2 separate regions of the Homo sapiens genome follow, and region 2 is linked to region 1. The links come from fine-mapping of genetic effects on plasma protein levels. A gene starts in region 1. The other region holds a variant in brackets. All regions are shown on one strand. Distances are between the middles of the regions.

Region 1 (5,355 bases):
TGGTAGAGACGGAGTTTCACCATGTTGGCCAGACTCATCTTGAACTCCTGACCTCAAGGTATCCACCCCCATCAGCCTACCAAAGTGCTGGCATTACAGGGGTGAGCCACCGGGCCCGACCAATAATTCTTTTTTTAAAGAGACAGAGTCTTGCTCGGTCACCTAGGCTGGAGTGCAGTGGCATGATCATAGTTCACTGCAGCCTTGAACTCCTGGGCTCAAGTGACCCTCCTGCCTCGGCCTCCTGAGTAGCTGGGCCTACAGGTGCACATGCCACCATACTCAGTTAATTTTTATTTAATTAAAAAAAATAGGCCGGGTGGGGTGGCTCACACCTGCAATTTCAGCACTTTGGGAGGCTGAGGCGGGCAGATCAGTTGAGGTCAGGAATTCGAGACCAGCCTGGGCAACATAGTGAAACCCTGTCTCTACTAAAAATACAAAAATTACCCGGGCATGGTGGTGCATGCCTGTAATCCTAGCTACTCAGAGGCTGAGGCAGAAGAATCATTCGAACCCAGGAGGTGGAGGCTGCAGTGAGCTAAGATTGTGCCACTGTACTCCAGCCTGGATGACAGAGCAAGACTCTGTCTCAAAAAAACAAACAAACAGCTGGGCATGGCGGTTTATGCCTGTAATCCCAGCACTTTGGGAGGCTGAGGCAGGTGGATCACTTGAGGTCAGGAGTTCGAGACAAGACTGACCAACATGGTGAAACACCATCTCTACTAAAAATACAAAATTAGCCGGGCGTGATGGCGCATGCCTGTAATCCCAGCTACTTGGGAGGCTGAGTCACGAGAATTGCTTGAGCCTGGGAGGCAGAGGTTGCAGTGAGCCGAGATTGTGCCATAGCACTCCAGCGTATGCAACAGGAGCAAAACTCCATCTCAATAAAAACAAAAACAAAAACAAACCACCCTCTCATGATCATCCAGACTGTTGTGCCTGGTTTGAGTGACAGGCAACTCACCATCTATCCTCTTCCCACCTACAACAGCTCTGACTATCACAAACTTCTGTTAAGTTCTTTTAAAAATTTGGCTGAAGCCAGGTGTGGTGGCTCTCCCCTATAATCCCAGTGCTTTGGGAGGCTGGAGTAAGCAGATCGCCTTGAAGCCAGGAGTTTGAGACCAGCCTGGCAACCTTTGGGCTCTACAAATTTCTTTTTTTTTGTGACAGAGTTTTGCTCTTTTTTCTTAGGCTGGAGTGCAATGGCACGATCTTGGCTCACTGCAACCTCTGCCCCCCAGGTTCAAGTGACTCTCCTGCCTCAGCCTCCCAAGTTGCTCGGATTACAAGCATGAGCCACCACAAAATTAGCCCGGCTAATTTTTGTATTTTTAGTAGAGACGGGGTTTCACCATGTTCGCCAGGCTGATCTCAACCTCCTGACCTCAGACGATCCCCCTGCCTCTGCCTTCCAAAGTGCTGGGATTACAGGCGTGAGCCACTGTGACTGGCCCCACACACACACACAAAATAATAATAATAATTGACCAGGTATGGCCAGACGTGGTGGCTCACTGTAATCCCAACATTTTTGAAGGCCAAGGTGAGACAGTCACTTGAGCCAAGAGTTTAAGACCAACCTGGGCCACATAGAGAGACCTCATCTCTATTTTTTTTTCTTTTTTGAGACAGTCTTGGTCTGTCGCCCAGGCTGGAGTGCAATGGCGGGATCTCGGCTCACTGTAACCTCTGCCTCCTGCATTCAAGCGATTCTCCTGCCTCAGCCTCCCTAGTAGCTGGGATTACAGGTGCCCGCCACCGTGCCTGGCTAATTTTTTTATTTCTAGTGGGGACGGGGTTTCACCATGTTGACCAGGCCCTCTCTCTCACTATATATATATATTATTTGTTGTTGTTTGTTTGTTTTGTTTTGTTTTAAGCCTCGGGTGATTGTGATGATCTGTCAGGTTTGGGATCTGTTAGATCTCTCAAATGCCCCCAGCCAGCCCTGGCCCTACAGGTGTGGCCCCAAGAAGATGGGCTGGCACCTGCCTGGACCCTGTTTTTAAATATCCATTGTCGAGGTTGGGCTACTCTATGATCACATCTTGAGACCATCCAGAGCTCCACACAGAGATAAGCAATGCTTAGAAAGGAAACAAAACTTTGCCCAAGAGCCAGAAACCTATCTTCAACAACCAATTGTGCTATAAAGTAACTTAGTTCAGTTCACTGGAATATTACTTAATTTCCTCTGCTTTTTCTTTTTAAACAAGAAAGTGTTGACTCAGCCAACAGCACTGGGAACCAGACTCCCTGGGGCCTGCCTGCCCCTGCTCTTCTCCCAAATTCTCTTCTTTTTTTGTCCCTGTTGATGGAATTCAATAAAGGGATCTCTACCATCTGTCACTTGTTTTTTTTTGTTGTTTGTTTGTTTGTTTTTTTTTTTTTTGGCAGAGTCTCACTCTGTCGCCCAGGCTGCAGTGCAGTGGTGCCATCTCAGCTCACTGCAACCTCCACCTCCCAGGTTCAAGTGATTCTCCTGCCTCACCCTCAGGAGTAGCTGGGATTACAGTTGCCTGCCACCATGCCCGGCCAATTTTTGTGTTTTTAGTAGAGACAGGGTTTCTCCATGTTGGCCAGGCTGATCTTGAACTCCTGACCTCAAGGGATCCGCCCACCTCGGTCTCCCAGAGTGCTGTGATCACAGGCATGAGCCACCACGCCCAGTGCCAGATTATCTTTCTTCACTGTCTAATTTCATTCCTATGAGTATTAGTTTACTTTTCCTTTGTTGGGTCAAAAGTGCTGCTTCTGTTCCCAACCACAGAATTCTCTGGAATTGTTTTCAGGGCCGTCTCAGTCTCATAAAAGGGGATCAGGCAGGAGGAGTTTGGGAGAAACCTGAGAAGGGCCTGATTTGCAGCATCATGATGGGCCTCTCCTTGGCCTCTGCTGTGCTCCTGGCCTCCCTCCTGAGTCTCCACCTTGGAACTGCCACACGTACGTAGCTGGCCCATTCCCCTCCTGGGGTTCCTTCCCGGACCGCCTGGGAGTGGATGGAAATGAGTATCTCCAAACCCTTCCTCTCCCTGATTTTTAGGTGGGAGTGACATATCCAAGACCTGCTGCTTCCAATACAGCCACAAGCCCCTTCCCTGGACCTGGGTGCGAAGCTATGAATTCACCAGTAACAGCTGCTCCCAGCGGGCTGTGATGTGAGTATTTCTCGGACGTACTTTCTGGGGCCCCATCAGTCATGCAACAGGATGGGTGCTGGGCAGACCCCCAGGATGAGCCTTGGGATGGGAACCTGGAAACCCCACCTCTGCACACTAACAAGTGTGACTCTGAGCTTCAGGTAGAACCTGACTTTTTTTTTCTCTTTTTGAGACGGAGTTTCTTTCTTGTTGCCCAGGCTAGAGTGCAATGGCACGATCTTGGCTCACTGCAACCTCCCCCTCCCGGGTTCAAGCAATTTTCCTGCCTCAGCCTCCCAAGTAGCTGGAATTACAGGCACATGCCACCATGCTCAGCTAATTTTTGTGTTATTAGTAGAATTTCACCATGGTTGGCCAGGCTGGTCTTAAACTTCTGAGCTCATGTGATTTGCCCGCCTCAGCCTCCCAAAATGCTGGGATTACAAGTGTGAGTCACTGGACCCAGCCAATCCCCACTTTTAATAAACTCACAGTGAAGTAAGAGCTCAGGAATCATCAGCTATGATGAATAACCTTGAAAATGTGGCTAACAATTAAATGACATGTTGAGTGCAGGGTTCCTTTCTGGGGTGATGAAAATATCCTAAAATTGATTGTGGTGATGGTTGCATAATCTATGACTATACTAAAAACCATTGAATTATAATTATAGCCTTTAAATTGGTGGAGTTGTACATGGTGGGGAGGTTTAGACGATCGCTTGAGCCCAGGAGTTCAAGGCTGCAGTGAGGTATGATCGCACCACTGCACTCCAGCCTGGGTAACACAGAGAGACTTCATCCCTAACAAAAGAGAAAAAAAAGAGTGAATTACAGTTATCCCCCAGTAACCACAGGGGATTGGTGCCAGGATTTTGGCATACAATTTCCCCTGAATTTATGCAGCTTTTGCATCACCGAGTTTTGTATTTTCTATCCTCCTTTGGTTGGCAAAAGGCTGCCTATGAGTGGGCCCACAGAGTTCAAATCCGTGTTGTTCAAGAGTCAACTGTATGTGCCGTGTGAATTATATCCCAACAAAGCTGTTCTATTACAATGAAAGAATCAGCCAGGTGAGGTGGCGCAGGCCTGTAAGCCCAGTTACTCCGGAGGCTGAGGCAGGAGAATCGCTTGAACCCGGGAGGCGGAGTTTGCAGGAGTAGAGATCGCGCCACTGCACTCCAGCCTGGGTGACAAGAGAGAAACTGTTTCAAAAAAAATAAAATAGGCCGGGCGTGGTGGCTCACGCCTGTAATCCCAGCACTTTGGGAGGCTGAGGTGGGCAGATCTCCTGAGGTTGGGAGTTCGAGACCAGCCTGACCAACGTGGAGAAACCCTGTCTCTACTAAAAATACAAAATTAGCTGGACGTGGTGGCGCATGCCTGTAATCCCAGCTACTTGGGAGGCTGAGGCGGAAGAATCACTTGAACCTGGGAGGCAGAGGTTGTGGTGAGCCGAGATCGCGCCATTGCACTCCAGCCTGGGCAACAAGAGTGAAACTCCGTCTCAAAAAAAATAAAAAATAAAACAAAATAAAGGCTAGGCGTGGTGGCTCACACCTGTTATCCCAGCACTTTGGGAGGCCAACACAGGCGGATCACCTGAGGTCAGGAGTTCGAGACCACCCTGGCCAACATGGCAAAACCTTGTCTCTATTAAAAACACAGAAATTCGCTGGGTGTGCTGATGCGTGCCTATAATCCCAGCTACTTGGGAGTCTGAGGCAGGAGCATCACTTGAACCTGGGAAATGGAGGTTGCAATGAGCTGAGATCATGCCATTGCACTCCAATGTGGGCAACAGAGTGAGAGTTCGTCTCAAAAAAAAAAAAAAAAAATTAAGTGTCCTGGTGCAGGTTACATGCTGCAGGCTAGAACTGGTGGAAAACGGTAAATGGTACCTGGTAGAGGTGGGTCTGGAGGCATAGTTTCCAGTGGAAATCAAGATAGGAAAGAGGAGGGAGACAAGGCCCAGGAGAAGAGGGGACAGGGACAGAGAGCAACAAGTTTGTGGCAAGGCCAGAAGACTAGTGAGAGAGCTGCCCCTCCTTCCCTTTCTATCCCACCCCAGGAGGCAAAGAGTCTCAATATTGACTTATCCGTGTCTCTTTTTCACAGATTCACTACCAAAAGAGGCAAGAAAGTCTGTACCCATCCAAGGAAAAAATGGGTGCAAAAATACATTTCTTTACTGAAAACTCCGA
Region 2 (5,369 bases), 24 kb before region 1:
CAAGAGAGAAACTCCGTTTCAAAAAAAAAAAAAAAAAGTTACCCAGGTGATTGCGATGTCCAAGCAGGGTTGACAGACTTTTCTACACCGGGAGACAACGAACTGTGAACAACCCAGGGACCCAGGGCTTCATGCAGTTGGAAGAGGTCCAGGGAGAAGTGCTGAGCTGGGTTGGGTATCTTGACTCTGAGCCCTTGCCAGGTAAGTGTGGCAGCTGGTGGGCACAGTTCTGGTCTCAGTCACTTCTTCCTCCAGGTGGCAGCTGGAACTGCCAGATAAAGAAAGGTCAGCATAAGGTCTTATCTTGTTCGAAGCCTTTGAACTTTTCAAAGCTTTCAACTCCTCGCTTCCCCTCCTCCTCTCCTCCTCCCTGGCTTTTTGTCCTCTCTCCACCAACCAGCCTTCCTGCAAGGGATGCCAAGCCTCCATCCATCTCTTGATAGAACATGCTTCTAGAGAGCCATGCAGTGTTGGGCTTCCCTACCTAGTAAATCCCAGCTTATAATTTTTTTTTTTTTGAGACAGGGTCTCGCTCTGTCATCCAGGCTAGAGTGCAGTGACATGATCACAGCTCACTGCAGCCTCGACTTCCTGGGCTAAAAAAAAATCCTCCCACCTCAGCCTCCCAAGTAGCTGGGACCACAGACACGTGCCACCACGCCTTGCTAATTTTTGTATTTTTAGCAGAGACGCGGTTTCACTATGTTGCCCAGGCTGGTATCGAACTCCTGGCCTCAAGCCATTCACCCGCCTCAGCCTCTCAAAGTGCTGGGATTACAGGTGTGAACCACCCCACCTGGCTTCCCAGCTCATCAATTCTTTCTGAGACGCAGTCTCTCTCTCTTCTTCCCATCCCCATGTCCTTCTGGGAAGTATACTGCTGGGAGAAGTTGCCAGAATGAATGTTTTTTTTGACCGAGAAAGATGTTTTGCTGTCAGAACTGCTGAAATTCTATCCTGGCTCTAGGTCCCAGCCCTTGCAAAGTTATTGATTCTGAAGAATTCCATGACCTTGTTTCTCTAGGTCAAACCTCTCTATTAAAAGGGTAGTTATACTATCTCACTTCCCAAAATTACAGACCTGTTCATTTCCAGGAAGCCCCTTGAGAACGCATGGGCCTGGGCACAGCAGCTCAAACCTGTATTCCCAGTATTTTGGAAGCCAAAGCAGGAGGATCACTTGAGGCCAGAAGACGAGTCTTACTATGAGCAATATAGTGAGACCTTATCTCTATTTTAAAAAATTAGCCGGGCATGGTGGCACGTACCTGTATTCTCAGCCTCTTAGGAGGCTGAGGCAGGAAGATTGCCTGAGCCCAGGAGTTGGAGGCTGCAGTGAGCCATGACCGTGCCATTGAACTCCAGCCTGGCAACAAAGCAAGACTCTGGCTGGGCATGGTGGCTCTTGACTGTAATCCCAGCACTTTGGGAGGCCGAGGCGGGCGGATCAGTTGAGGCCAGGAGTTTGAGACCAGCCTGGCAAACATGGCAAAACTCTGTCTCTACTAAAAATGCAAAAAATTGCCACATGTGGTGGCATATTCCTGTAGTCCCAGCTACTCGGGAGGCTGAGGCAAGAGAACTGTCTGAACCTTGGAGGCGGAGGTTCCAGTGAGCTGAGATGGTGCCACTGCACTCCAGCCTGGGCGACAGTGTGAGACTCTGTCTCAGAAAAATCAAACAAAAAAAAAGCGAGCCTATCTCTAAGAAAACAAAAGAACTTATGGAAGTTTCCTTCTTCTTTTTTTTTTTTTTTTGAGATGGAGTCTCGCTCTGTCGCCTAGGCTGGAGTGCAGTGGTGGTGAACTCAGCTCACTGCAACCTCTGCCTCCCAGGTTCAAGCGATTCTCCTGCCTCAGCCTCCTGAGTAGCTGGGACTACAGGCGCCCACCACCATGCCTGGCTAATTTTTTTTGTATTTTTAGTAGAGACGGGGTTTCACCGTGTTAGCCAGGATGGTCTCGATCTCCTGACCTTGTGATCTGCCCGCCTTGGCCTCCCAAAGTGCTGGGATTACAGGTGTGAGCCACCGCGCCTGGACTGTTTTGTTTTGTTTTGTTTTTGAGACCAAGTCTCCCTCTGTTGCCCAGACTGGAGCGCAGTGGCACGATCTCGGCTCACTGCAACCTCTGCCTCCTGGGTTCAAGCAATTCCCGTGCCTCAGCCTTCCCAGTAGCTGGGATTACAGGCACATGCCACCATGCCCAGCGGATTTTTTAGTAGAGATGGGTTTTCACCGTGTTGCCCAGGCTGGTCTCAAACTCTTGAGCTTGGGCTATCCACCCAACTGGGCCTCCCAAAGTGCTAGAAATACGGGCGCGCCCGGCCAGAAGTTTCCTTCTTAGAAAGCTGTACGTGGCCCTGTGTGATGGCTCGTGCCTGGTATCCTAGCACTTTGGGAGGACAAGGTGGGAAGATGCTTTGAGCCCAGGAGTTTGAGACCAGCCTGGGCAACACAGGGAGACCCCCATGTCTAGAAAATTAAAAATAAAAAAAAAAATTATCAGGACATAGTGATGTGTGCCTGTGGTCCCAGCTACTTAGGAGGTTGAGGCAGGAGGATCGCTAGAGTTCAGGAGTTGGAGGCTGCAGCGAGCTGTGATTGCATCACTGTACTCCAACCTGGACAACAGATCAAGACCGTGTCTCATCAAAAGAAAGGTGGTCATTTGGGTCTTCCAGTCGCTTATTCTGCCTGAGATACAGGCAAGATTTAGAGGAAATTATTCTGTTACTGACCGTAGCTGAGTAGGGGAGACTAATACTCCCCGAATGCTCAGTGTAAGCAGGCCAGCAAGAGGACCCCAGACCCCTCCTCCCGTGGCTCCTACTAAATCCCACCTTCTGCCTTTTGCCACTAGTTTTTTTTTGAGACGGAGTGTCACTCTGTTGTCCAGGTTGGAGTGCTTTTCAGCCTCTAAAAAGGCATTCCCTGGAAGTCTCTCTC[TCC/C]CCAGCCTTCTAACTTCTGAATAATCTCAAGCCCAAAGGAACATTCAGTTCTTGCTATGGGTCATGCCCGGTCACGACCTTGCTTGGGGAAACATCTCTCAAGACTCAGAATGGGGAAGAGCTGCGCTTCTCCCAAGCAACTGGCAGTTCGTTGTTATGTTCTCGAAGCTGGTGGGATGGGCTGCATTTCCCTTTTTTTATTGGCCAATTGAAAGTTTGGAAGGGAATTTGCTGACTTTTGCTAACCCGCAGATGCCTCCCCTTATCTATCTAGCTGCTATTTGCCCTTGGCTCTGATATGGTCCTGTAACTACAGAGTAGTTTTAGCTTCGGGACAAAGCCTGGCGGAAGCCACCCTGAAGGTTCATTCTCAGCGTTAAGGGTTGGGGGGTAGGACTCTGAGACTGTCAGAGGCAGGACAAGGCACAGGCATGACACAGACCCAGCTCTGAGCCTTGGTTCTGCCATCCATGAGTTTTGTGGCCTTGAACAAACCACAGTTTTCTAGGCTGTAAAAGGGGATAAGAAAACCTCCCTAGGCCGGGTGTCATGGCTCATGCCTGTAATCCCAGCACTTTTGGGGGCCGAGGCAGGTGGATCACTTGAGGTCAGGAGTTCGAGACCAGCCTGGGCAATATGGTGAAACCCTGTCTCTACTAAAAGTACAAAACTTAGCCAGGCGTGGTAGTGCATGCCTATAGTCCCAGCTACTTGGGAGGCTGAGGCAGGAGAATCGCTTGAACCGAGGAGCTGGAGGCTGCAGTGAGCCGAGATTGCACCACTGCACTCCAGCCTGGGTGACAGAGGGAGACCCTGTTTCAAAAAAAAAAAAAAGAAAGAGAAAAAAAGAAAGAAGAAGGCAAGAGAGCAAGAAAGAAAGATAGAAAGAAGAAAGCAAGAGATCAAGAAAGAAAGAAAGAAGAAAGCAAGAGATCAAGAAACAAAGATAGAAAAAGAAAGAGAGAAAGAAAGAAAGAAGGAAGGAAGGAAGGAAAGAGAGAGAAAGAAAGAAGGAAAGAAAGAAAGAAAGAGAAATAAAGAAACCACTCTCCTAGAACCGCTTTCAGGGTAAATGGATTAACTGGTAACAAACAAAAAAGTTTGTTTTTCTTCCAACTCCAGGAGATACGGTTTTTTAGTTGTTTGTTTGTTTGAGACAGGGTCTCACTCCGTCACCCAGGCTGGAGTGCAGTGGTGTGATCGTGTCTCACTGCAACTTCAACCTCCTGGCCTCAAGCGATCCTCTCACCTCAGGCTCCCCAAGTAGCTGGGACTACAGACATGTGCCACCATGCCCAGCTGATTTTTAAGATTTTGTAGAGACAGGGTTCCACTATATTGCCCAGGCTAGTGTTGAACTCCTGGGCTCAAGTAATCCTCCTGCCTCAGCCTCCCAAAGTGCTGGGATTACAGGTGTGAGCCACGGCGCCCGGCCGAAACATGTTTTTATTCTCCTGATTCGGCTTGGTCTCTGTTGCACACAAGCCAGGATGCTGCTTCCTCCAGGAAGAGCTTCCCAGGGCTGGGGAACCCCTCCTAACACACTGTGCCTCCTCTGGCTCCCCTCACTAGCTCCCCATGTGTAGGTCTCACTGGGACAGCAGACAAGGGAGTTTCTTTACATCCACTCCTTACTTCTCTCTTTTTTTTTTTCCTTTTTTCTTCTTCTTTTTTTTTTGTTTGAGATAGAGTCTTGCTCTGTTGCCCACGCTGGAGTGCAGTGGTGCGATCTCGGCTCACTGCAACCTCCGCCTCTCAGGTTCAAGCAATTCTCCTGCCTCAGCCTCCCAAGTAGGTGGGATTACAGGCACGTGCCACCACACCTGGCTAATTTTTGTATTTTTAGTACAGACAAGTTTCACCATGTTGGCCAGCCTGGTCTCAAACTCCTGACCTCAAGGGATCCACCCACCTCAGCCTCCCAAAGTGCTGGGATTACAGGTGTGAGCCACTGCACGCGGTCTCTCTTTCTCTTTCTCTCCCTTCCTTCCTTCCTTCCTTCCTTTCTCTTTCTCTCTTATTTCTCTCTCTCTCTCTTTTTCTTTCTTTCTTTTTTTTATTGACAGAGTCTCACTATGTCGCCCAGGCTGGAGTGCAGTGGCACAATCTTGGCTCACTGCATTCTCTGCCTGCTGGGTTCAAGAGATTCTCCTGCCTCAGCCTCCCGAGTAGCTGGGATTACAGGTGGGCACCACCACGCCCAGTTAATTTTTTTATTTTTAGTAGAGACAGGGTTTCACCATATTACCCAGGCTGGGCTCGACTCCTGACTTCAAGTGATCTGCCCACCTAGGCCCTCCAAAATGCTGGGATTACAGGTGTTACCCACCTCACCTGGCCCGCTTTCTTTTCTTTCTTTCTTTTTCTTTATTTCTTTCTGTCTTTCTTTTCTTTTCTTTTCTTTTCTTTCTTTCTTTCTT

Evidence for each region. PIP is the chance, under the fine-mapping model, that this variant and not a neighbour inherited with it causes the effect. The UK Biobank Pharma Proteomics Project read protein levels with antibody pairs (Olink). The fine-mapping took linkage between variants from a reference panel, not from the people measured, so its PIPs are less certain.
Region 2: its variant is fine-mapped to the plasma level of the CCL26 protein (UK Biobank, PIP above 0.99).

Annotation. Positions count from the first base shown.
Region 1 is chr7:75,769,704-75,775,058 of GRCh38, reverse strand. CCL26 (C-C motif chemokine ligand 26) reads left to right here and starts at 2,848. Exons shown (of 3, transcript NM_001371938.1): 1 at 2,848-2,955; 2 at 3,056-3,170; 3 at 5,270-5,355. The coding sequence starts at 2,883. RefSeq lists a silencer at 2,034-2,328.
Region 2 is chr7:75,793,869-75,799,237 of GRCh38, reverse strand. No RefSeq gene overlaps it. Among named protein-coding and RNA genes, the nearest start is that of CCL24, 17 kb to the left of the region's middle. The variant TCC/C (reference allele first, on the strand shown) is at 2,948.